Homo sapiens: one gene and its partners. The protein of the gene in region 2 interacts with the protein of the main gene of each other region in a pairwise test. Each region holds a gene or a part of one and is shown on either strand. Other genes may lie near its edges. The genes, in order: PLXNB1, ARHGEF11, PLEKHG4B and NCK1.

Region 1 (2,784 bases), on a different chromosome or scaffold from region 2:
GAGACCAGATAAGACAGTCTCCAAGCTCACCTCCAGGTACAAATCAGGAAGAACCATATAAGGCGGCCTTCATGGAGGCAGACAGTTTAGGAGCCGGCCCTAGGATGCCCTGATTTGGAAGGCAACACAGAAACCCTAAGTCCAGGAACAGGACCATGGAAAATGGCCCTCGAGACCCCCTCTGCCTAGAGTTGCCTGTAATTATGTCATCCTTTCCTAGTCCCTTTCAAGATAAATAGAACATGAGTGGAGAAGTGAGAATACGCAAACTGCAGATAAAGCAGGCCCCCTTGAAGAGACTGTAGACCCCTCTATCTCGGTCACCCGCCCTGCCCCAGATGGGGTTCTTCCTTCACGGAAGCTTTGACCCCACCAGACCCTGCCCAGGCGTCAAGGAGAGCCTCAGCCAGCCCTGCAGTCTGGGATATGATGGGGAACCATGAGACTCCCCAAGAGTATAGATACCACCTCCCCCTGGTACCTGCTGGGCATAGCTGCCGTCCTCCTAGTAGCCAGGGGCTAGGCCGGGCTCACACATCAGACTCAGTGCAGTGTGTTATCCTTTAATGAAAAGCTGGGTCAATGGAGTCACCACTCTCCCCAAGACCCCCCTGCAGCAGATAGCCCTCACCATGGCTACCTATGAGGCAGGGCAGCCCTGTGGCAGCCAGCCCTGCTGAGGGGTCAGTTTGTAGTGGCCTAGGAGAGGCGTTCAACTCTTAGACCTAGGATGTGGCAGCAGCAACAAGGCCAGAGGCAGCTCAACTGAGGTCAGGGATGGTGGAGGAGGCAGACAGGAAGCATGGGGCTCTCCTCCTTCCTCTCCGAATCCCAGTGTGGCCAAGGCCAGTGTTCAGGAACAGTACAGTCTCCCCAGGGGCCTGGAGTCTCTTCCAGCCACTCTCTGGAAGCCCTTAGTCCCCAACTCCCTGCAGACCGGTGTCACAGGGTCGCTGGACTCGGGGAGCAGGCTGGGTACTACCCCATGAGCCTTGAGGCCCCGGGTCTAGGAGGTGGATCCAGCAGGGCCGAGGCCAGAGCCACCAGGAGACTGGGAGTCACCTTCCACTAACTCTGCTTGTCAGTCACTACAGGCACCTAAGAAGGTGGCCTCTCCTCCGAGCTTCCAGGGCTGCCCAGGCCAGGCTGAAGCAACAGCAGGCCGTGGCTCCTGGGTTCCTATAGATCTGTGACCTTGTTTTCCACAGCAGCTGCAATCTGCTGGAGCCGATAGCCCAGCTGCATCTTCTGGGCCGTGCCATCCTCCTCCAGGGCAGTGATGATCTGAAACAGAGACCAATGCCATCAGGGGAGACTTCTTTGGCCAACGTGTTTGCTGCAAAATTCAACAGCCCTCCTAAGACGCTGTGGCATGAGTGGGGTAGGAGGCCAAGAAACCCAGCCGGTCACTTCACGTACTTTCTGGGACCTCAGGGCCTCGCTGGCGGGAGGGGTAATAACATCAAAGTCACCGCGGGGTTCCAGGATGAATAAGGTAGGAAATGAAGGACCTGACTCAGTAGCGAGCTCCTCAGAAGCCCTGCTGCAGCCATCCTGGCTAACCCACCCGCCAGCCAACAGTATTTCCCAAGTTCCTGTCTGCCCGGTGCCAGACAAGGGGCAGAGACCCAAGAATGACCAGACACGTGGTGGGAAAACAGACACTGATCAAACACGAACCACGAATTTGGGGCTGCCACCAAGGGAACCGGTAGGAACCGGAGGGCAGCAGCACTTGGGAAAACAGCTACTGCCCACTATGTCTCCACAAGGGGACATGCCTGCATCACACCCTGCCTCCCCCAAGCCCCGTGCCATGGCCCACACCATGCCGAGGAAGGCTGTGGGCCATGAGACAGGTTCCTCATCTCTGAGCAGCAATAGCCATGTCACTGGTGCCACACAAACATCTAAGTGGACTATTCCACCAGGCATCCAGCAGGTTGACTGGCAGGTGCTCAGCTCTTCAGGCACAGCCCAGGGATCCTCCAAAAAGCTTCACCAGCTCCAGTGTACCCTCACACCCCTGGCCCTGTGCCTGGACTCTCCTCTTCGCAGCTCATGCAGCCAAGCCAGGCCTGCACTTGCATGTTGGCCGTGCCCAACATGCTGCCAACTCAGCAAATGCACACCATCTCCAGGCCCTGGTAGACCCCTTGGCCCCCACAACCACCAGCACTGTGCCTCGCCGTCCTGCTGGGGAGCTGGAATGGGGAGCAGTGGGACAGGTGAGAGCACAGCCAATGCCAGGAAGCCCGCCTGGAAAACACTTCTCAAGCCACCAAGGGGCCCGGCCCCCCACTACTCTGTCCCTGGGGAAGACCAAAGCCCCCAACGTGAGTCACAGGGTCAGAGCCCCTTAAGTCTCCTGGGAGGCCTTGGGTCAGCCTCCCAGTCGGGGTCCAGGGCCTGCCCACCTGGTCATAGTACTTGTTGATGTACTTGTAGAGTTCATGCAGGGCCACTCGCGCCCCGAGGTCTCCGGAGTAGTTCTAGGGAAGAGGCCAAATGAAAGGTGAGAGAGACGAGGGGTGCAGAGAGCCACAGGAGGCAGCCCAGGACCCCAGGGAAGGGCTGGGGGAGAAGGGGACCTGAGAGGTAGAGAATGGGATGGGCACTACAGTGGGAAGCAGAGTCCCCTCCATGGCCCAGGGACCCCAGGCCAGGTGTGCCAGATGGGGACAGAACAGGGTAGAGCAAGGGGGCCTCCTTGGTAGGAAGACAGCCCAGGTCTACCTGCTTCAGCAAGGTCTGGGGTTTCCACTGAAGCCCTGCCTCTCTCAC
Region 2 (6,801 bases):
TTCTTGCACGCCCCCAAAACTTGGGTTCCCATCTTCTCAAATCCTTGCATTTACCAGAAAGAGTTCACCATCCAAATCTTAAAAAGGCAAGTGCACTAATTCTCAAACTCCAAGAGGATGAAAAGGGAAGAAGGGCAGCCATGTAAACCATTCCAATTCCTCACCTTGACACACCTCAGTTCTCCCTTTCCAAGGGTCAAACTGCAGAGAGGCCAACAGAAAGGAGGAAGGAGGTCTGAACTGGCCGTACATCCTTTGTGGCTGTCTGCCTCCTCTTCTCCACTGCCAAGTCAGTTCCCATCTAGGGACTGCTGAACTAATCTAAATGGGACTCTGAGGCAATACAGAGATTAGTGCTTGAGAGAGAGAGATTATATGCATTTTAGGCCACATTCCACAACCAAAAGGAAATTATTATTAGCATGGATAACCGAAGGTGGACTGGGCATGGAGGGAACAATTGCTCCCTTGCAAATATTCTTCCCTATCTCTCCAATAATATTTTTTTCCAGGCCCAGTCCTTTCATTTGCTTGTTCAGTCCTTCAACCACCCATCTATCCAGTTAGGATGTGTGCAGTGCCCACAAAACACACCCCCCACAGCAAGGTTCTCATGGGGAGAAGCGTTGAGGAGGGGTAGGGGAGGGAAGGAAAAGGCAGACACCTTACAAAGTTGTACCAATCATTTGGAGGTAAGAATTGCAACCACACAGTAACATTACCAGTGATAGAGGTGGCTGGGCAGACTCTTGGGGCAAGGGGTGTCATGTGTTCAGACTCTGAGGGCCAGTGCTGCTGCCCAGCAGGCCTACGAGCCCAAAACAATTTCTTCTGGCTCCAGGCAGAGGGAAGGCCCATTTTGCAGAGTCAAGCTTATTAAGAACAGCTTGGAAGATTAAACCTAGAGCATCAGCCGGTTGGCAGGTCTCAATTCAAACTCTAAGCTTGGAGGAGAGGAAATTCTAATGTGATCTATGCATTTTGGGACCATGTCAGCTACTGGTAAAAATCCAGACTTGCATGGGTGCAAAGGATGTTTCTGTCCCATCATTCAGGCCAAGAACATCCTCTTCATTTCTAGAAATGGGATCCACCCCGTCACCAAGCCCCACCATTCCATACCAACCAGCCTGGTGGAGGCCCACGCCTCTGCCAGGGCCCTTCTCCCAGCAGCTCCAACACCTAAAGCCAGTCCCCCTAGTGCAACCCTAGGAGCTCACAAGACTGGCTTGCCCCCACCTGAGACTAGCAAGTTGGGTGGACTCAAATTCAGCCTCTACCCTGGCAAAAGTCAAAAGCCACTGGAAGCACATCCTCCTCCTTTCCCTCTCCTGGCTTCACTGTTTATTGCTTATATTCAAAAGACGCTGAATCAAGAGCTATGTTTTTGCACATAACCACATAGGCTGACAGTCCCCAGAGACTAATGCTCCTAGCCCACCAATTCCCATAGCCCACCCAGACCCCTATTTTCAACCATTTATTAAAATGCAACACCACCCCTCCCAGTCTTTCCTTTAGTCAATGTTGAAAAATCAAATTATTAGCAAACCTACCTGTCTATACTCTGGGGTAACCTTACACTCATGGTTTCTCGGTGTCTCCACGGTTCCAGAATCCTGTAGCTTTGGTGTCTTGATCAGGATTGAATCGCTTGCAATTTTTGAGCAAGGTGAGAGGAGGGCCTCCCAACTTGAAGATAGAATCCTTTCTCCTCCAGCTCTCAGGACCCTGGTAACTGATGCTCCACTCTACTTCTACCAGTGAACATGATTTCCTTTCTCAGCCCCTCTTCCCCTCCCCCGCTTTAAAAAAAAAGAAAAGAAAAGAAAAAAGAAAAAAAAAGGAAAAGAGGAAAAACTACGACCTTCTCAGAAACCAAAAACCCAGCCACGAATCTCTTCAAGGTTAGCACTATGGCCAAAAAAAAATGAATCACAGAAAAATGTGCCTTCAAAATATCACTGTTAACTGCAAAGTACAGATAAAACCATCCTTTAAATCCAGCTTTCTCAGCTGTCCTTCTGTTGGCAAGAGACCCTCTAGCTCAAAGGGGGAAAGTAATTTTCTAGTCTCCAATGCTTAATATGACAACAGCAAATATCTTTGAGGAAAGGAAAAAAAAAAGGATTAATAAATCCGAAATGGCACTTGGAAAAATTCTTTCGGCTGATTTGTACAGTAAAATAATAAATAAAACCATACAATAGTATGTACACAACAGCACTCCTTCCAAGTCCAGTGCAACCCTGGGAACCAAAATTTATGGACTTCCTTAAAAAAAAAAAAGCTTTTACATTAAATGTTTTGAAATTCTTAAATGAGCCAATTGCACCAAAAAAAAAAATAAAATAAAAATCAAAGAACACCTGAAATGCAATGCTTTTTACCTTTAAGATGGTAGTAATGATAACAAACCAGAGATAATCTCTGAAAATATTCTCTCCTTTTCTTTTTCCTTTAAACTTGCAGGTTCCTCCACCTACCCCAGCCTGATTCTCAGACCCAGCCTACGTTCGGCCTTTTTCTGAAAGACAATTTCCTGAGTTAGTTCTGCTGTTGGGCTCCTCCACATCCAGGCTCCGAAATTTTCTCTTGCCTCAGCCTCCATGAAACGGAGATTTCGCTTCCTCCCGTTCCCCCTTCTCTCTCCCTCTCTCTCGCCCGGCCAGAAAGACGGCTCCCTTATTATTCGTTCGGATTATTATTGTGGATTTGAGTTCGAGGTGGGTTTTTCTTCCACACCAGACTCCTGGAAAATCCGATCGCCTGTCTCCTCTCGGCCTCTCCTTGCCTCCCTTTCCGCCCCTCGCCTAATCTCGCAGGCAGGAGCCCGCAGTGCCTCGCGCAGGACGCCCGGCCGGGCCTCGGGCTCCCGGCGCCGCTCGCCCCGCGCCCGACCGCCGTGTTCCGGCCTTCGCGGCCGCTCGGGACGCCAGGCTCGGCGCACAGGGAAGGCTGCGGCGGCTGCGGCAGGCCGGCACGAGCGGGCGTCCGACTGCCGGCGTCGCGGCCGCGCTCGCCTCCTTCCGGGCCCCTTCCCCCTCGGTTCGCCGCTCGCTCGGGCGCAGGCCCGGCCGGCCGCCCCCCTTCCCTCCCTCCTTCCCTGCGAGCCTTTCTCCTTCCCTCGCTCCCGCGGGGCGGGGCCGCAGGCTCCTCCTCCTCGCTGCGCTGCCCGCCGCCCGCCGGCCTTTCCCCTCACGCCGCGGCGGCCGGGGGCGGGGGCGGGAAGCTGACCGCCTTTCCCTGCCTCGGTTCCCGCGGCCGCGACTCCCGCCGACCGGCCCGCCCCTGTCCCGGCCTCCCTGCGCGCCCTGCCCCCCACAACCCTTTGCCGTCGCTCCTCGGCCGGTCCCCTCTGCGGCCCCTCAGTCGCCGGCCCTGCCCCTCGGCGCGGCCTAGCGGGTTCCCATCTCAGCCGGATCCCCGGCCCGGCCCGCGGGCGACCCCGGCCCTGACCCCGCCAGGCACCGCGCGCCGTCCCCGCCGCCGCCACCGCCACCGCCACCCCTGCCGCCTTTTCGCCGCTTTTCCTCGGCTGCTTTTCCCCCTTTTATTGACTTCTGCTCGGGAGCCGACCTTTGTTTCCTACCCCCTGCCCGCCCAGCCACCGTGCCCGCGCCCCGTGCCCCTGCCCACGGGTGCAGGTTTACCTCTTTGCGTCCACCGGCATTACCCCGGCGCCCGCAGCTGCGGCTCACCCTCTCTCCACCTCTCTTCTGATCTTATTTTTCAAACATTTGTTGCGGCCTCCTTCGTGGTGTCAGTTCTTTTAACTGTTTCCTCCCGTTTCTGTGGTCCTTCCCACTTCTAATACCACCGACTTAGGGGGAAGACCCTTCGCTGTTTCCTCTCGGGTTGGGTTGGGCATCTTAATAGCAGGCTGTGTGAAGTGTCTTTGAACTCTATGGAAGAGCCTTTCCAGAGCAATTCTATTTTCATAACCCCCTCTCATAGAATCACAGTTTCTAAATCTTTACAAGTAACGTGACATTTGTCAGAAGGTGCCGAGCGTTATGATTAAAAATCATTAAGGCCGAGGCGGGGCCTGAGGTCAGGAGTTCGAGACCATCCTGGGCCAACATGGTGAAACCCCCCCCCTCTACTAAAAATACAAAACTAGCCGTACGTGGTGGCGCGTGCCTGTAATCCCAGCTACTCGGTAGGCTAGGGCACGAGAATCGCTTGAACCCGGGAGGCGGAGCTTGCAGTGAGCCGAGATTGCGCCACTGCACTCCAGTCTGGGCAACAGAGCGAGACTCCGTCTCAAAAAACTAATAATAATAAAATTTTTTTTAAAAAATTATTAAAATAAAAAAACTCTCACTAGGATTGGGGAGTGGACTTTGCCTTCTTGCCTAGGTAAATGCCATTGTAAAATACTCTGCAGGCAGTGGGGTGTTTGCATAAGTTCTCTCCTTTCACACTACCTGGATTGTTCTGGGAGGGGGTGGATATGTATATGTAAATTATCTATACACATTCGTGAGCTCTGGAGTGACCTCACCAGTGTTAGAAGTGGTAGATATGCAAATTGCAAGAGGAAAAAGAAACGAATAAGCATCAGTTGAAGACCTACTATGAACCAGGAACTTTCCCTTTAATGTATATCAGGTATAGGTTGGCAAATAAAAGAACCTGCTTCCTTCACCCTGTCTCCACCAACCCCTAGGCCAGAACTCCCCAAAACAGGTGATCTGCCCAGCATTTGAAGCACAGTCTAGATTGTTGCTGACTTAATTGTGTCTTTCTTTCCCATACTACCCGCAAAAATGATGCTCTCAAATGTGGACACTGCTCTGTGGTGACAGACCACTGGTTGCCACACATTTTAAAATAATGTTTTCTTGGCCAGGTGCGGTGGCTCACGCCTGTAATCCCAGCACTTTGGGAGACCGAGGCGAGTGGATCACCTCAAGTCAGAAGTTCGAGACCAGCCTGGCCAACATGGTGAAACCCCGTCTCTACTAAAAATACAAAAAATTAGCTGGGTATGGTGGGGAGCGCCTGTAATCCTAGCTACTCCGGAGGTTGAGGCAGGAGAATCGCTTGAACCCGGGAGGCAGAGGTTGCAATCAGCCAAGATTGCGCCACTGCACACCAGCCTGGGTGACGAGTGAAACTCCATCTCAAAATGATAATAATAATGATAATGTGTTCTTAATATATGTAATATTTTTAAAGCAAGTATTTACATATATTTTATTACATATCTTATACAACATTGCCTAGTGTAGAAATATTAAAAGGTTGAAATTTAAAAATGAACATTTTTTAAATCATGCTTTTTGGTGAAAGTTAATTGCTGTCATAACTGGAAAAGATGCTTGCCAAAGATAGGTAGATTCAAACAGAAGAAGTATGCCCTTGATTGCATTTATTAAATCATGATACTTATTTTCCAATCCCATTCATCAACAATGCAAAGACTTCTAATTGAAATTCAACTAGTAAATTTATATCTTAAGTCAATCCTTCTTGAATGATTGGAAGGTGTTACATTTTTATATTCTTAACAAATGGGTTCCAGCCATTAAGAAATTTCATTTAACTTTAAAAAATAGGTTTTCAAATTCTGTTTCCTAATTTTTCAGTGTGCAAAGGTTTTGATAGGTGAAACCATTGTTTTTGGTAATTAAAAAAATCACAATATTGGAACCATTTCCAGTCATCCGTCTTCAAAATACTTTTTCCTAAAGTATGTGTTTCTTTAGAAAAGCAGTGACTTCCTCGCTCGTAGATAGACTGTCATCTTAACCTTGAAGGGACAGCTTGAAGGGACAGATTAAGCGGTGTTTTTGTTGTTTGTTTTTGTTTTTGCAAGTAAGTGCTAGGTAGCATACTCTTGACAGCCATTTCTCATCATAGAACACTGAAATAAAACTGTGCATCTCCTCCATGTTCAGTATTTCATTTTAGGCTTTCCCCAGGAGATTGTTAATCTGCACAGCAAAGATTTTCATGGTCATTCTCTGTCATTACAAAGAATTGTAAAGTTTGTAGCAGTTAACAGGCTTGTTTTTGTCTGGTGGGTGGCGTACATCATGAAGAAAATGAACGTCAATGGTGATGTTACCTCTGGTTCTTGGAACCTCCTCATATACTGTGTGTGACAGATGACTTCTGACATAGTGACTGAGTGAGAATGCCATGTCATTAGTGTTAGTAAAACCTAATTATTTTTGCTATAATTAAATACTATTATGAGTGCATTCTTTTTTTTTTTTTTTTTTTTTTTTTGAGACGGAGTCTCGCTCTGTCGCCGAGACTGGAGTGCAGTGGCACAATCTTGGCTCACTGCAAGCTCCGCCTCCCAGGTTCACACCATTCTCTTGCCTCAGCCTCCCGAGTAGCTGGGACTACAGGCGCCCGCCACCACGCCCGGCTAATTTTTTGTATTTTTAGTAGAGATGGGGTTTCACTGTGTTAGCCATGATGGTCTCGATCTCCTGACCTCGTGATCCACCCGCCTCGGCCATGAGTGCATTCTTAAGTATTTTCCTCAAGCATCTCCTTGAACACTCCACTTTGAAGATTATGAGGGTGGCTTTAGTAAGATAGAGTTCCCTGAAGTTAGTTGGCCATTTAAGTAAACTGCAAGTCTCAGGTTAAAAAACAAAATAGATTAGATTGTGTCCTAGACAGACTGGGTTGTAGGAATCTGGAGGCAGCTGGTGATCAATGGAAAGAGCTAGACTAGACTAGGAGTCCGGAGAACTAGATAACTTTGTGAACTGCCATCTGCAGTTTGTAAGGATTTAATATGAACAAGCCTGGGCTCTGTAAGCTATAGAGTGCTGG
Region 3 (7,019 bases), on a different chromosome or scaffold from region 2:
TTGAATCTGTAGATCATTTTGATGAGTATTTACGTCCTAGCAATGTTGTCTTTCTATCTATGAACATGACATTGGCTTTCCATATATTTGTTTCTTGAACTTCTTCCTCAATATTTTGTAGTTTTTAGCATACAAATCTTTCACTTCCTTGGTTAAACTTATTTCTAGGTATTTAATTCTTTTGGATGCTATTGTAAATAGAATTGCTTTCTTAATTTCCTTTTCATATTGTTCATTGCTGTTGTATAGAAATACAAATACCGATTTTCACATGTTAATCTTGTACCCTGTAACTGTTGAATTTTTGTATTAGCTCTAGTAGCTTTTTGTGTATTCTTTGGAATTTTCTCTATATAGGAACATGTTACCTGTGAATAGAGTTTTACCTCATCCTTTTCAATTTGAAAGTCTTTCATTTATTTATTTTTTGTTGGTTGTCTCTGTTGCTGTCGCTGGAACTTGCAGCAGAGTGTTGACTAGACATGGCAGCAGTGGGCACTTGTCTTCTTCCTGATCTTGGGGAAAATGTTCAGTCTTGCCATTGAGTATGATGTTAGCTGTGGGTTTTTCATAAATACTTTGTATTACTTGAGGAATTTTCTCCCATCCTTGTTTTCCAAGAACTTTTTTTCTGAAAGGGTATTGCATTTTCAGAAGCCCTTTCTGCATCGATTGAGATGATCGTGTGGGTTTTCTCCCTTCGTGCTGCTACTGCAGTGCACGACATTGACTGATTTTCTTATATTGAACCACCCCTGTGTTCTTGGGATAAATCCCACTCGGTCATGGTGAATAGTCCTTTTAACATACTATTCCCTGACTTTCTTTTGAGGCTTTTTGCATCTGTAGTCATAAGGGATATTGGTGTGTAGTTTTTCTTTACTCACAATGTCTTCATCTGGCTTTGGTATCTGAGAAGGGCTGGCCTCCTACCATATGTTAGGAAGCGGTCCCTCCATTCCAGTTTTTAAAAAGAGTTTGTGAAAGAGATCTATCTACTCTTGTGACTTCTAAGCATGGACACATTTCCTGGCCCAGTCCTGGTTCCTCCTCCCCTCTGTCCACACACTTAGTTCCACCTGTCTAGACACAACTGTGTGGTAGATGGTTCTAGAACCACATCTCTAACCCAACCGCTACTCCAAGCACCAAACTCATACAGCAGTCAGTCCACTCAGTATGTTCAATAGGCATCTCAATCTTAATATGGCATTTCCCCCCAGACATGCTTCTCCAGTCTCTCCCATCTCAGTCAGTGGAAACACCTTCCACCTGCTGGTCAGGCCCCAAATCCTTGAATTGCTGTGTTGGTGCTGACTCGTGACTGCAGACAGCAGAATCCGCTATAGCTAATTTAAGCAGTGAGGATATGTGTGAAGCCATTGGGTAGATCATAGCATCCATGGGAGAGTCAGGAAACCAGAACAGCGAGAAACAACCACAACCCTGGAGAAACACCCAGCCACGCTGTAGGACTGTGTTAGGGAAACCCCCCTCCCCGTCCCCTGCTGCTCAGCACCAACAATGCCAGGGACGGGACCCAGAAGAACCAAACACCTCAACATCCATCTGCTGTGTCCAGCCCGATTCCTGTGTTCCTTCCACATCTCATGTGGTGCATCTCCTGGCAAAACCGGGCACATCTGCACACCAGCTGCAAGGGATCCCGGAGCGTGGCATTATGGCCTCCAGCTTCTGCACACTGGAGGGCACACCCCGGGGGGGGGGGGCGGTGGCAGGGTCACTAATTCAGTGTCTGCCTCTGTGCTCTTTGGGTTCTGTCTCCGCAGCCAGCTTTTCAGCAGTCCTGCCCCCTCTGCCTTTACAGGTCCTGCTTTGACCATTTCCCATGACCTCTGTCACTCCCCTGGAACCCAACCTCATCACTTTCACCAAGATCAGGCATCCACTTCCTGATCTCCTGCCTCCGCCTGCTGAGCTCTCTGAAATGTAAGTCGGAACAGGTCGCTTCCTTTCTAACTCCATCCCCTCTGAGTGTCCCCACTTTCGCTGTGTTTGTGAGCTCACCAGATCTGCCCCCCCCCCACCCCATAGGGCCTTTGCACAGGTGGCTCCTTTGCCTTCAAGTCCCAGGTAGCTTCCTCTCAGTGTCTGCTCAGCCTGCCCCATCAGAGAGGCCTTCCTTGACCGGATTTGTGTTCTGTCCACTGGTTTATTTCCCTCCACTGGAATGTCAGCTTCCCAGAGATGGGGGCTGTGCTGTGACTACCAGTAGTAGTTGATCAGTAAGTACTTTTTGAATAAACCAAGCTATGTTAATAGTCCATGTTTTGGAAAAACTCCCTAGAAAACATCCCTAATTCCATGGATCCATGGCAAAGAAAGAACCAGATCTGTAGAAACGGGCTGGAGAAGCTCACAAAGGACTCCTGGGCTGAGAAAGCCCCACACGGTCCCACTTTCTTTCTGTATAGTGGAGGTGTGGCAGGGGTGAGCTCCTACCACGGGCCCCAAAGTCTCCAGTAAGAGTGAGATTCCGGGCTGCACCCTGACCAGGCGCCACTGGGTCACTGCTGACCGTCCTGGAGGTGCTGAACAGGGATGAAGCCGTTTATTCTGGAGGCATGCCAGCATTCTTGGGTCCTGCTCTGGCAGGAGCTGTGGGGCCACACAGGCTTAGAAAGGTGGCTCCCATCCTGGACAGCACCGTGGGCAGTACTGTCACGAGGACGGGCTGGGAGGAGGGTGTGGCAGGGGTGTTGGGGGCCTCAGGTAGGGGCCAGCACAGAGGGACACCCAGATACCCAGCACAGAGGGCAGGAACAGGTCAGCTCCCTGCCTGGGCTCAGGGATGGGGCTGGAGGTTCTAGGAAGCAGAGCAAGTAAGCAGGACAGGGAACAGTGAGAACACAGGTGTAGATGGAGAATCAAGGCGGGGCGCAGCCAGGGATTCCAGGGAGGAGTAGACAGAAACTCAAGGGAGGGAGGCCTCGAGGGGATCCCAGGGAGGTGTGGACAGGGATTCTAGGAAGGAGTAGACAGAGACTCAAGGAGGCCTCGACGGAGATCCCAGGGAGACTGACTGCCTGCTGCATAGGAGGGAGGCTCCCAGCTGTGTCCCTGAGCTGCATAGGAGGGAGGCTCCCAGCTGTGTCCCTGAGCTTCATCCACTCTGTAACCTGTGACAAAACGGAGCATTATCTGTCAATGAGCACATCTGTGCCGCAGTTTTTGGGATGGTGCCAGGGTAGGGGTGAGGGACAAGTTGAGGGGACAGGTTGAGGTGGGGTCCCTGTGAGGCCCTCCTGGACGGAGTGGACCTTATGAGACACTCCCTAGCTGAATTCCCAGCAGGAAGCTGGTGCCCAGAGCACCCTGGACTAACGGGCGGGAGAGGGACTTTGTTTTGGGAGGCTCTTTGTAGATCAAGGCATTAAAATTGCACCTTTGGGGAAAGCATGTTCCAGAGCACCAGACACCCCGAGGCACCCTGAGTTGTGGGGGGGGAGGGTGATGGAATTTGGGGCCCTCGCTGAAGCCCTTCATTATCCAAGCCAGGCGCGGGGTGGCACGTAGTTCCCACAGCGGCCCCTGGACGGAGGAGAGGGCCTGGGCCGTCCACACCTGCAGAAATCTGGAGCTGGTCCGCCTAGACCAGGGGAAATCGGGGTCCCGTCCGGGTACACTGGCAGAACTCAGGGGTCAGATCCTCTGCCCTGGAGCATTCAGATTTGTGCCTCTACGTTATGGAAACCAGGGGCCCGTCCGGGTGCAACGTGGCATCCACAAAATGGCAGGTCCCCGAGCTCCGGGCTCCGAGAGAACAAAAGCAGAAGCCACTGCCGCCCGCGCTCGGGGAGGAGCCGCCCAGGTGGGCGCGTCCGGGGCTAGGCGGGAGCTGCGCAGCCGGGTCCAGGGGAGACGCCCCGCCCCGGCCGGACCCTCGGAGCCTCCTAGGGGAGACCCCGGCCCCGCCCCTCTCTCGCCCGGATCGGGCGGGGCCCCGGGAACGCGCGCGGCGAAGGCGGCCTCGGCCCAGTGCACAGCGGGACCAGGCAGAGTTCGGGGAAAGCGTCGGAGTTCGGGAGACCAGGGTCCAGCATGGGTTTCAGCACAGCAGACGGCGGGGGCGGCCCAGGCGCCCGGGTAAGAGGGGGCACGGGGACTGCGGCGGGTGGGGGCGCGAGCGGACGCGGGAGTAGGGGCGGGTGGGGGCGCGGGGGTAGGGGCGGGGTGGGGGGGGGCGCCGGAGTAGGGGCGGGTGGGGGCGCGGGGGTAGGGGTGGGGTGGGGGCGCGAGCGGACGCGGGAGTAGGGGCGGGTGGGGGCGCCGGGGTAGGGGCGGGTGGGGGCGCGGGGGTAGGGGCGGGGTGAAGGCGCGAGCATCAAGGCGGGCGGGCGCGGGGACTGGGGTGGGAGGGGGCGCGGGTACCCAGACGTGCTGGGGGTCCTGGCGTGGGTCCTGGGACCTGCCGGCGGCTGCTGCGGGAACGGGAGGGAGCTTCTTCAGGCACCCTTTTCCTTGTAACCTCGTGAATACTCGGGAGAAGAAATAACGCTTTCTGGACAGATTTGCCCTCTCGGTGCCTGAAGGGGAGCCAGGGGAGGGGAGTCTGAAATCTCATCGCCAAAACTGAGAGTTGCTAAGTTACTCTTCAGCTCAAACCGGTGGGACAGAACAGTGATCTGTGGTGGCCCGGAACAAAGAGAATTTTTACTTAAAAATACCAAGATTGACTTTTGTGTTGGAGTGCTAGTTGATTTGAGTAAGAAACATTTGCTAGTAAAACAAGACAGTTATTTCAGCTTTGGTGAAAGAGTGATAAAGCTGTTTTCAGGTTTTTCATGTGAGTTGCAAAAAGTATATTGGGTTTGCCTTTCCCTGTTTCGTGTGAAACTAAAGAGTGGTTGAGGTGAGGTAATTACACTCTACTCCTGTTACCCAACAGCACTTTTGCCTAAAAAGTTTAGTTGGTACGTCTAGGTGTCTAATTAAGAATTGAAACATATAATTTAAAAATTAAGTTAAATGTCATTGAAACGGTGCATAATTGATACTTTTGACTGAGCCTTAGGCAGCTGGGTGGGTCCTGAATCAAGATTCCTGGGAAGGTAGGTTTCTCAGCTTCCCGAAGAGATTTAATGTAAATCTTCATGTAATGTGGACAAAGGTGAGTTTTAGCTTTCAATTTCCCTGAGCCTGCCTCGAATTCACAAAATTCCAGGCTCTCTGGGTCAGAAGGAACTTCGGAGATCTTGAGGAGGCCGCCGTCTCCGAGATTCTGTGATATATTCAGCATTTCCATTCCCTATGGGATCACAACCCACTGGGAAGCAGTGTTTGGTGACCCCCCCACCGAGAAGTGGGTTCATATTCCTGCTTCTGAGGAGATACCAGGTTTTTATTTCACTGTGCGGCATCCGGTGTGCAAATGCAGATGTGGCCTGGGCTGGGAGCACACAGGCTTGACCCCGCAGGCAGCCGGTAGGCCAGGGTGTCAGGTCCCCTGTGTTAGCCGGAGCCTTCTCATCTTTTATCCTGGTAGAGGGGCGCTGCTGGCCTTTCTGGGGGGTGGGTCTAGTCTGAAATCACCTTTGTGGGATCTGTGGCACTGGCTAGCTCTCAAGCTGGCCGGTGGTCTCAAAGGAATTCTTCGTTACTTGTAAAGTAGCCCAGAAATGCTGGGCTGAGGAAGTAATTTGCCCCAAGGCTCCCTGAGACCTGTATTCACAGGTTGTATCATCCAGCCAAACACAGGAGGCCCCAGATCCCCAGATCTCAGAGATTTTTGTGGGAAATCATCTGAGTCTAGCTCAGACACCACTGCCTCCCTCCTTCCAAACAGAATGAGTTTGTCCTCTCTTTGCGTTTGAACAAAAGTCAGGCCATCTAGAGCCTCCTAACTCTCACCTCAGACCTCCAAGGTGGGGCTACTCATTCTATAGATAGTGGAAATTGAGGCTTCAACACCTGCCCAGCATCTCACTGCCAAGAAGCAGCAAAGCTAGGTTTGAGCCAAACTCAAGGTCCTGGTTCTCCTTCTCCCCTCAAGGGCCCTGAAATTTTGGTGCCTCTCCTGGCTGATACAGCATCAGTGCTTCTGTGCCCTGCGGCAGCGGTTCTGTTCCCCACCTGGGTCGCCCCACACCTGGCAGGGCAGGTGCTCCCTGTGGACAGGCCAGTGCTGTTGGGTCCAGCCAAGACCTCAGGTGCCACGTGTGTGGTGAGGGGCTCCCTTCTTCCACCATGCTGTTGAAGACAGAGCCTCAGACTTTGTCTGACCCGAGACCCCAACGTGCTTCTGAGCAGGGGGAGAGTGAAGAGGGGTAGGCTGGGATGAGTGGGTGGCGGGGCTGGAGGGGGTTGAGAGGTGGCAGGTTCCATCCTGAAAGTGTTGGTTCTGGGCCTGGGAATCTGGGCAGGGGGAGAGTGAAGAGGGGTAGGCTGGGATGAGTGGCTGGCGGGGCTGGAGGGGGTTGAGAGGTGGCAGGTTCCATCCTGAAGGTGTTGGTCCTGGGCCTGGGAATCTGGACTCTGGTAAGCAGAAGGCACCCAACATTTCCCTTTACCTTATGGGGGGCTCTCGGGGAGGTGTCTGTGAAGTGGGTAACAGGCTCCAGACCCCGATCTTTTGTCCAAAGAACAGGCCTGGAATCTTGGAAACCAGCACATCCACCCTCCATGAGCTGTTGTCCTTCGGGCCAGTAGCTCAGCCTCTCTGAGCTTCAGTCTGTTCATTGTTTACAGGAATCATCTGTGCCTCACCTACCTCTCCGAGTACCCTAGAGTCAAACTTGAAAAGAGATGTACACAAGCTTTTAACAAGGAAACACAGTTGCATTCTTCACTTATGTTACTGTCCTTTAACAGAATGTTCCTAAATTGAAAGCTGCCTATGTCGTTGTGATATCTGGGACACTTTTCTGGGCCGCAGTTCACACCTGGGCCCAGGTTCTCAAAGACAAAGCTTTTGAATTCTTTTTGATTGATCTTACAAAATTTCCCCTGACAGAAAATCACATTGTGCAAAAGAGATACTTTGTGGTGAATTTGAATTT
Region 4 (7,051 bases), on a different chromosome or scaffold from region 2:
CACAGGTCTGGTAGTGATGAATTCCTTTAGTTTTTGTTTATCTGGGAATGTCTTATGTTCTCCTTCATTTTTGAAGGACAGTTTTGCTAAATATAGAATTCTTTGTTGGCTCTTTTGCTTTCAGCATCAGATCAGATTCTATCCCCTCCCCAGGGCTTATTACTGCTGCTTATTGTGAGTGGTTGTTGTTTGCTTGTTTAGTGACTTTACTAAACTACTTTTATAAGCTCTATATTCCTGGTCATGTGGGGCCGCTGAAGTCTATTCCATTTGCTTAGTAATCAGCTAGGGTTTTAACAGAGTTTCGTTAAACACCTGGAGCCAAAAGAAAAAACAAACAAACAAAAGAAAACCTCTCCCCATCTTTACAGATGGCTTTATGTTGGGGCAGTTTTTGACCACTTAGTGATGCCATTTATAATTCTGCCTTAGCCTTTGCTTACTGTTTGCTCAAAGCCTGAAGATCAGCCAGGGTGAAAGCTTAGGGTCTTCTTGGGCCTTTCCTGAATGTGCATCCAGCCCTGGCCATGTGCACGTCCTTCTTGATTGGTATACACACCCCTTATTACCCCATGTATATTCTTTCCCATCCCCTTTCTGTCCAGGCTTTTCCATCTGTCTGTTCCTTGTCCCAGTTGTTGTCCCTTGCCCCAGGCTGCTGCATCCATTAAATGATTTTTGCAAAAACCACCCAGGAAGACTCCCTATGCCTGGGAATGATTCAAGTCAGGCAAAGCCAAGGCAAGCCATTGCTCAGGTCCTTCAGGGAGCTGCCAGACAAGTTGAAACCCACAATCACAATTGTTTAAGAATGAGATCTGTATTGCTTCCTCTGGCATTAGGAGTGCAGGTTACTGTCCACACAGCCATCACTGACTTGGGGTGTGGGGGATGGTGGGCAGGCAACTTAGGATGCGATAGCACTCTCTTTACCACAAAGCAGCAACTTCTTTCTTTACCAAGCCTTGCCCTAGATTTTATAAGTTTTTTTTTTTTACTAGATTCCAGAGTTCTGCAAAAGTTGAGTCTGACAGTATTTACCAGCTCATTAATTGCATTCATTGCTTTTTGCAGGGACAGTGCCTTGGAGTTCCTTACTCTACTATTTTTGGTGGTATCACCCCAAATGTAGGGATTTCTCTGAAGGCTATCATTAACCGGAAGTAAGAAAATTAGGAAGGAAGAAGTTGATTTAGGGGTATAGACTGGATTATTTTTATTTGGACATGAGTGTTGGGTTTGAGGTACTGATGGCACAATCTGTGGGTGTCTAGTGACAGTTGGAATTGTAATGCCTGAATTCCAGAAAGGTCTTAGAGCTGCAAAGAGATCTGGGAACCTTCTGCACAGAAATTATAGAAAATGAAAGTGTATGATTTCCTTGGAATAGAGAGGAAGGTCAAGTATGTCATCTTGTGAAACACTTTCAGCTAAGGAATTCTTCATTTATTCATTCAGCATGTTTGCTGACTGCTGAATACATAATTTTGTTTTTCCTTTGTTCCTACTACTGATGTATGTACTGCTAAGCGTTGGAGACAGAAACGAATAAGATCTCGTTTTCTGCCCTCAGGAAGTTCACTCATATTGAGGAAGACAGACAAGTAAACAAGTACAATGCAGTGTTATAATAACAAGGTTAGAGGAGCCTAGACAGAGGTAAACAAGAATATGTAAACAGGTTGGGAGGGAAAATAAGAAATTCGGGGAAGTCAAAGAAGAAGAAAACATAATGGAGAGAGTGGGCTGTGATCTTGGTTGCTGCATATAGAGTTTGAGAAGGCTGAGGACTTTAAAAGTTACTGATTTGACAGTAAGGAGAGATGACATAAGAATGGTATTCATAAGAATGGTTTTAATTGAGTAGTTTTGTTAGAATGTTGGAGACAAAGGATCAGATAATAAAGAGTTGGGAGTGTGAGTGGTGAAAAAGTCGAGGGAAAAGGAAAAACAACCTTTTTTTTTTTTTTTTTTTTTTTTTGAGACAGAGTCTTGCCCTGTCGCCAGGCTGGAGTATAGTGACGTGATCTTGGCTCACTGCAACCTCCGCCTGCCAGGTTCAAACGATTCTCCTGCCTCAGCCTCCTGAGTAGCTGGGACTACAGGTGCACACCACTGCACCCAGCTAATTTTTGTATTTTTAGTAGAGACGGGGTTTCACCATGTTTGGCCAGGATGGTCTCGATCTCTTGAGCTTGTGATCTGCCCGCCTCAGCCTCCCAGAATGCTGGGATTACTGGCATGAGCCACCGTGCCCAGCCGGGAAAGACAACTTTTAAAAGAGTGGTATAGTTTATTCTATAGGAAAATTGGACCAGTTAGAGAAAAAATAAATAAATTACCAAAATGTTACGGTTTAAAAGTTGTAGCAGAGTTAAAGTAACTTCATTTTGGAGTAGAAAAGATATGAGTGTGTTTTTAGACAATTGAAGGGACTAAATAGGAAGGAAAACAAGGATGTCGAGAGTCCCAAGAGAGTCAGGAAAGATAGTATTAAGATCCTAGAAGGATCAGGATTTGGAGACTTGAGTGAAGAACGAGAGTGAGGATAATGAGAGTTTTGAGACAAAAGGAATTTGAGAAGTTTTACCTAGGGAAGCCTCAGTTTTCTAGGTAAAGTAGAGCATAAAATCACACGCTAAGAAATGGGCAGCAGTGAAAATGCCTGACTGAAGTTGATGTAGCGTACATTTGTATTGATAGTACCATTTGGTGATTTTCTCATTTCTTTCAACACATATGTGTTAAGCATTTACTGTGTACTAAGCACTATACAAGATCCTTGGGATTCTATCTGTAAACAAACAAAACTCCCTGTCCTTTTGGAGGTTACATATGACTGGGGTAAGGGGAGAAAAACAAATAATATTTTAAAATAAACATATGAGGTAAATAGAGCTACCTGGGTCTGGGAACCAAGAAAGCAAATGGGAAGATTAGCCAGACATAACTGCAATTTTATATTGCATATCATATTCTGATTTAAGATAGAAATAATTTTATTTTTATACAGCTCATTGTAGAATCTAGCTTGCTTAAACTAAGACAAGAAGAGTATGGGTGTGGTGGAGCCTTTGTGTACTTAGATTGTAGCTATGAAAGAAATCTATATTTACATTTAAGAGGGAATTCATTAATTTAGGACAACTTTATAATTATGTTATATAGTTATTTCAGGGCCTTTGACAAGAGAAAAGATGGTGAACTGTCATATAATAACAAATTAAATATTTATTTGGTTAAGAAAAAGAAAATTTGCATCTTATTTCCAAAAAGATGATTTTTAACTACATAGAAATTTGTTATATTTAAAAGCTTTAAAGATCTATATAGAGTTGAAGATCTCTTTTTAATAATGAATAAGTTCATTCTTTTGGTAATCATTTTTTTATATTCTCCTCTCATGGCCCTTTTTAATTTCAACAGGCATTGGAAAAGTGAAAAGAAAACCTAGTGTGCCAGATTCTGCATCTCCTGCTGATGATAGTTTTGTTGACCCAGGGGAACGTCTCTATGACCTCAACATGCCCGCTTATGTGAAATTTAACTACATGGCTGAGAGAGAGGATGAATTATCATTGATAAAGGGGACAAAGGTGATCGTCATGGAGAAATGCAGTGATGGGTGGTGGCGTGGTAGCTACAATGGACAAGTTGGATGGTTCCCTTCAAACTATGTAACTGAAGAAGGTGACAGTCCTTTGGGTGACCATGTGGGTTCTCTGTCAGAGAAATTAGCAGCAGTCGTCAATAACCTAAATACTGGGCAAGTGTTGCATGTGGTACAGGCTCTTTACCCATTCAGCTCATCTAATGATGAAGAACTTAATTTCGAGAAAGGAGATGTAATGGATGTTATTGAAAAACCTGAAAATGACCCAGAGTGGTGGAAATGCAGGAAGATCAATGGTATGGTTGGTCTAGTACCAAAAAACTATGTTACCGTTATGCAGAATAATCCATTAACTTCAGGTTTGGAACCATCACCTCCACAGTGTGATTACATTAGGCCTTCACTCACTGGAAAGTTTGCTGGCAATCCTTGGTATTATGGCAAAGTCACCAGGCATCAAGCAGAAATGGCATTAAATGAAAGAGGACATGAAGGGGATTTCCTCATTCGTGATAGTGAATCTTCGGTAAGTTGATTTTCGGAGGTAAATACAAATAGAGCTCTGGGTATTTTAAAAAAAAGAGAGAGAGAAATGGAGAGGTTAAGTGGCTTCCCTAAAGTTAACCAGGTAACAAGCTGGGACGTAACATAAGCATAAATGTTCCAAAGCTAAAGTCCGCATTCTTTCTAGCTATCTATTTTGAATAAAAGAGAGCTGTGGCAGTGTTGCTACACACTGAATTATTTCGTCTTGTCTAGTTCTGTTGATTTTGCATTCCTGATATATTTTCTGTTTCTGTTGCATTAAACTAAATGGAGAAAATGGAACACTGGCCTCTTCATTGAGAGTAGAATAATACTATAGATTAAACTGGGAAACATTTAAAAAATTGCTATTGGATGCAATGTGTAAGAAGGTAGTCACTGTAGTCCTTATGACATAGGAAATCCCTGAATTTAAAAAATTGATATTAAGTTTCTTCATAAATTGGTTACTTGGAAATTGGAATGCACTTTTATTATAACCTCAAAAAACCTATTTTAGCAGTGTTTGAAATGCATTTGCAATAAAAGATAAATTATATTGCAATACTAGTAAACAATAAAACTATAAAACCATAAAAGTTGAAAAATAATATGGTTTCATGGTCTCTTTTAGATACTGCTTAGGATATTAGAATTTGATGACACTCATTTTCCTTAAAAATGGCCTTTCTTTTTCCTTGATGAAAGATATCACTACTTTTCCATTTATTAAATCATGGTTAATCTTGGCTTTGCGTGAGTATATTTGTACAAAAGGGAATGTGTAATTGCACAAAATTTTGAAAGAAAATGTGTGGAAGTGGGGTGTGGTGGGGAGAGAGATTAATTGAACTTCCTGATGTGAAGTTCAGGAAAATGGGGCCTGTGCCTAATCCCTCAGAAAAGCAGTTGGTTGGCAGTAGGGAAGAGTGATGACATCCATTTTCTGTTAGTTGCCTGATCTGGCTCACTGTTTGAAACTTTGGGAGTAACTGTAGAAAAAGAGGCTTTGGGGGTTGATATAGACTGTAACAACAACAACAAAACTAATTAAAAAGAAGATAGCTTGAATGCAGAATTGTATGTATTTTCTTGTGGGTAATTGAGTGTAGATATTAGACAAAATGCAATATATACCATTATTTTTAGCAGTATACTTTTTAAGGTTAGAGGTCTCAAGTAGGCATATTTTGTTTAGCCTTCACAGTGTTTTTTAAACATTTAAATTCATTGCCGATATTTAAATATTAGGATATTTATTATAAAAATTCAGACTTTAGACCATTTAAAATTGGAAGAACTACCAACATTGAGACCCGGTTCCTGCAAGGCAACAATCACAGCTGAGAAGTCACCACTTGTTTAGATTGGTGATACACTGTCATTTCCTCTGCCCATCTACCTTTCCACTCTGACACTTATTTACATTATTCTTTTGGCTCTTGTAGGCATTTGAGTTTGTAGCCTCTCCTTAAAGTTTAGATTAATTCTCATTTGTGTATTCTTCATTTTTGGGAATTCAGCATGTTATCTCTAAGACAGCTACTGTTAGCTACACATTGAAAAGGGGTTGGGTGGGTATCTTAGACTTTCTCATGTGTTTCTCTGACTGGAGAGAAGATAGCTCTTGTTCTTCAAATATTTAACTAAAGGATTTGCTGTGGGTGTCTGCTGTTGGAGCCGTGGGTGTTAAGAGACTTTTGATTATGCAGGTTTGAATCCTGGCTCTGTTGTTAACTAGATGGATGATATTGGCCAAGTTATTAATAGCTTCTTTGAGACTCAGTTTTCACATGTGTAAAAAGGGTTTGTTTTGAAGAGTAAAGGAGATAATCTATGTAAATAATTTACCATGGTGCCTAGGACTTAGTAAGTGCTTAGATTTTAGCTTTTAGTTTAATATAAAAATACTGATAGAGGGCTTTCAAAATGTTTACTATATGTATCTTTTTTTTCTCTTTTAGCCAAATGATTTCTCAGTATCACTAAAAGCACAAGGGAAAAACAAGCATTTTAAAGTCCAACTAAAAGAGACTGTCTACTGCATTGGGCAGCGTAAATTCAGCACCATGGAAGAACTTGTAGAACATTACAAAAAGGCACCAATTTTTACAAGTGAACAAGGAGAAAAATTATATCTTGTCAAGCATTTATCATGATACTGCTGACCAGAAGTGACTGCTGTGTAGCTGTAATTTGTCATGTAATTGAAGACTGAGAAAATGTTGGGTCCAGTCGTGCTTGATTGGAAATTGTTGTTTCTAAATCTATATGAGAATTGACAATAAGTATTTTTATTATAACTCAGCCCATACATATATACTATGTATGCAGTGCATCTGCATAGAACAGTTCCTTATCCTTGGCCTTCTGTTTTATTGTTTTTTTCTTTGCTGTTTTCCCTTTGCTTCTAATATTACAGTTTTGTATTTTGTAAACAAAAATCAAATAATGCATATCAGAATCTTTATATGGAAGAAATCCTTTATTGCCTTTCCTTTGTTTCCTTGTAAAGGCACCCTGTTCTGTTATGGTTTTTCATTATATAAAATTATTATATCTATATATGACATATGCTAAAATTTCTTGGAGAGTGTTAATCTTTTCTGTGACTAAATAGCAATAATAAGTGGAAAATTAGAAATTATTTCCAGGTATTATATTTGTCACAGGCCATTGTAAATACCAAGTATATTGTGTCTGCCATAATTTTTAAAAATACATTCATTGTCTTCAGTCATACAGCAAGACACATGAGACATAGATTAGAAAACATGTTGTACAATTTTAATTTACAACTGTTGGAAATAAAAATCACTTAATTTTTTTCCAGTGCTTCTCCCTCATCTGGTTATTCAAGAAAACAAAACAGTCTCTGAGATATTTAGCTTTTCAAACTGTAAATAGATGCTC

Evidence for each region.
Region 1: the proteins of ARHGEF11 (region 2) and PLXNB1 interact in a two-hybrid assay, tested with the Homo sapiens proteins (2 studies listed by BioGRID).
Region 3: the proteins of ARHGEF11 (region 2) and PLEKHG4B interact in binary tests that used the Homo sapiens proteins (3 or more experiments, as listed by UniProt).
Region 4: the proteins of ARHGEF11 (region 2) and NCK1 interact in binary tests that used the Homo sapiens proteins (3 or more experiments, as listed by UniProt).

Annotation. Positions count from the first base shown.
Region 1 is NC_000003.12:48,403,307-48,406,090, forward strand, and holds the end of PLXNB1 (plexin-B1 precursor), read right to left. Parts: intron 2,493-2,784; coding exon 2,418-2,492; exon of another isoform or gene 2,417-2,417; intron 1,285-2,416; coding exon 1,180-1,284; 3' UTR 548-1,179; downstream 1-547. UniProt on the Homo sapiens protein: Receptor for SEMA4D. Plays a role in GABAergic synapse development. Mediates SEMA4A- and SEMA4D-dependent inhibitory synapse development. Plays a role in RHOA activation and subsequent changes of the actin cytoskeleton.
Region 2 is NC_000001.11:157,042,743-157,049,543, forward strand, and holds the start of ARHGEF11 (rho guanine nucleotide exchange factor 11), read right to left. Parts: upstream 3,001-6,801; 5' UTR 1,589-3,000; coding exon 1,557-1,588; intron 318-1,556; exon of another isoform or gene 165-317; intron 1-164. UniProt on the Homo sapiens protein: May play a role in the regulation of RhoA GTPase by guanine nucleotide-binding alpha-12 (GNA12) and alpha-13 (GNA13). Acts as guanine nucleotide exchange factor (GEF) for RhoA GTPase and may act as GTPase-activating protein (GAP) for GNA12 and GNA13.
Region 3 is NC_000005.10:88,170-95,188, forward strand, and holds the start of PLEKHG4B (pleckstrin homology domain-containing family G member 4B), read left to right. Parts: upstream 1-3,998; 5' UTR 3,999-4,062; coding exon 4,063-4,107; intron 4,108-7,019. UniProt on the Homo sapiens protein: Guanine nucleotide exchange factor (GEF) which specifically activates small GTPase CDC42 by exchanging bound GDP for free GTP.
Region 4 is NC_000003.12:136,942,157-136,949,207, forward strand, and holds part of NCK1 (SH2/SH3 adapter protein NCK1), read left to right. Parts: intron 1-3,426; coding exon 3,427-4,139; exon of another isoform or gene 4,140-4,175; intron 4,176-6,102; coding exon 6,103-6,297; 3' UTR 6,298-7,051. UniProt on the Homo sapiens protein: Adapter protein which associates with tyrosine-phosphorylated growth factor receptors, such as KDR and PDGFRB, or their cellular substrates. Maintains low levels of EIF2S1 phosphorylation by promoting its dephosphorylation by PP1.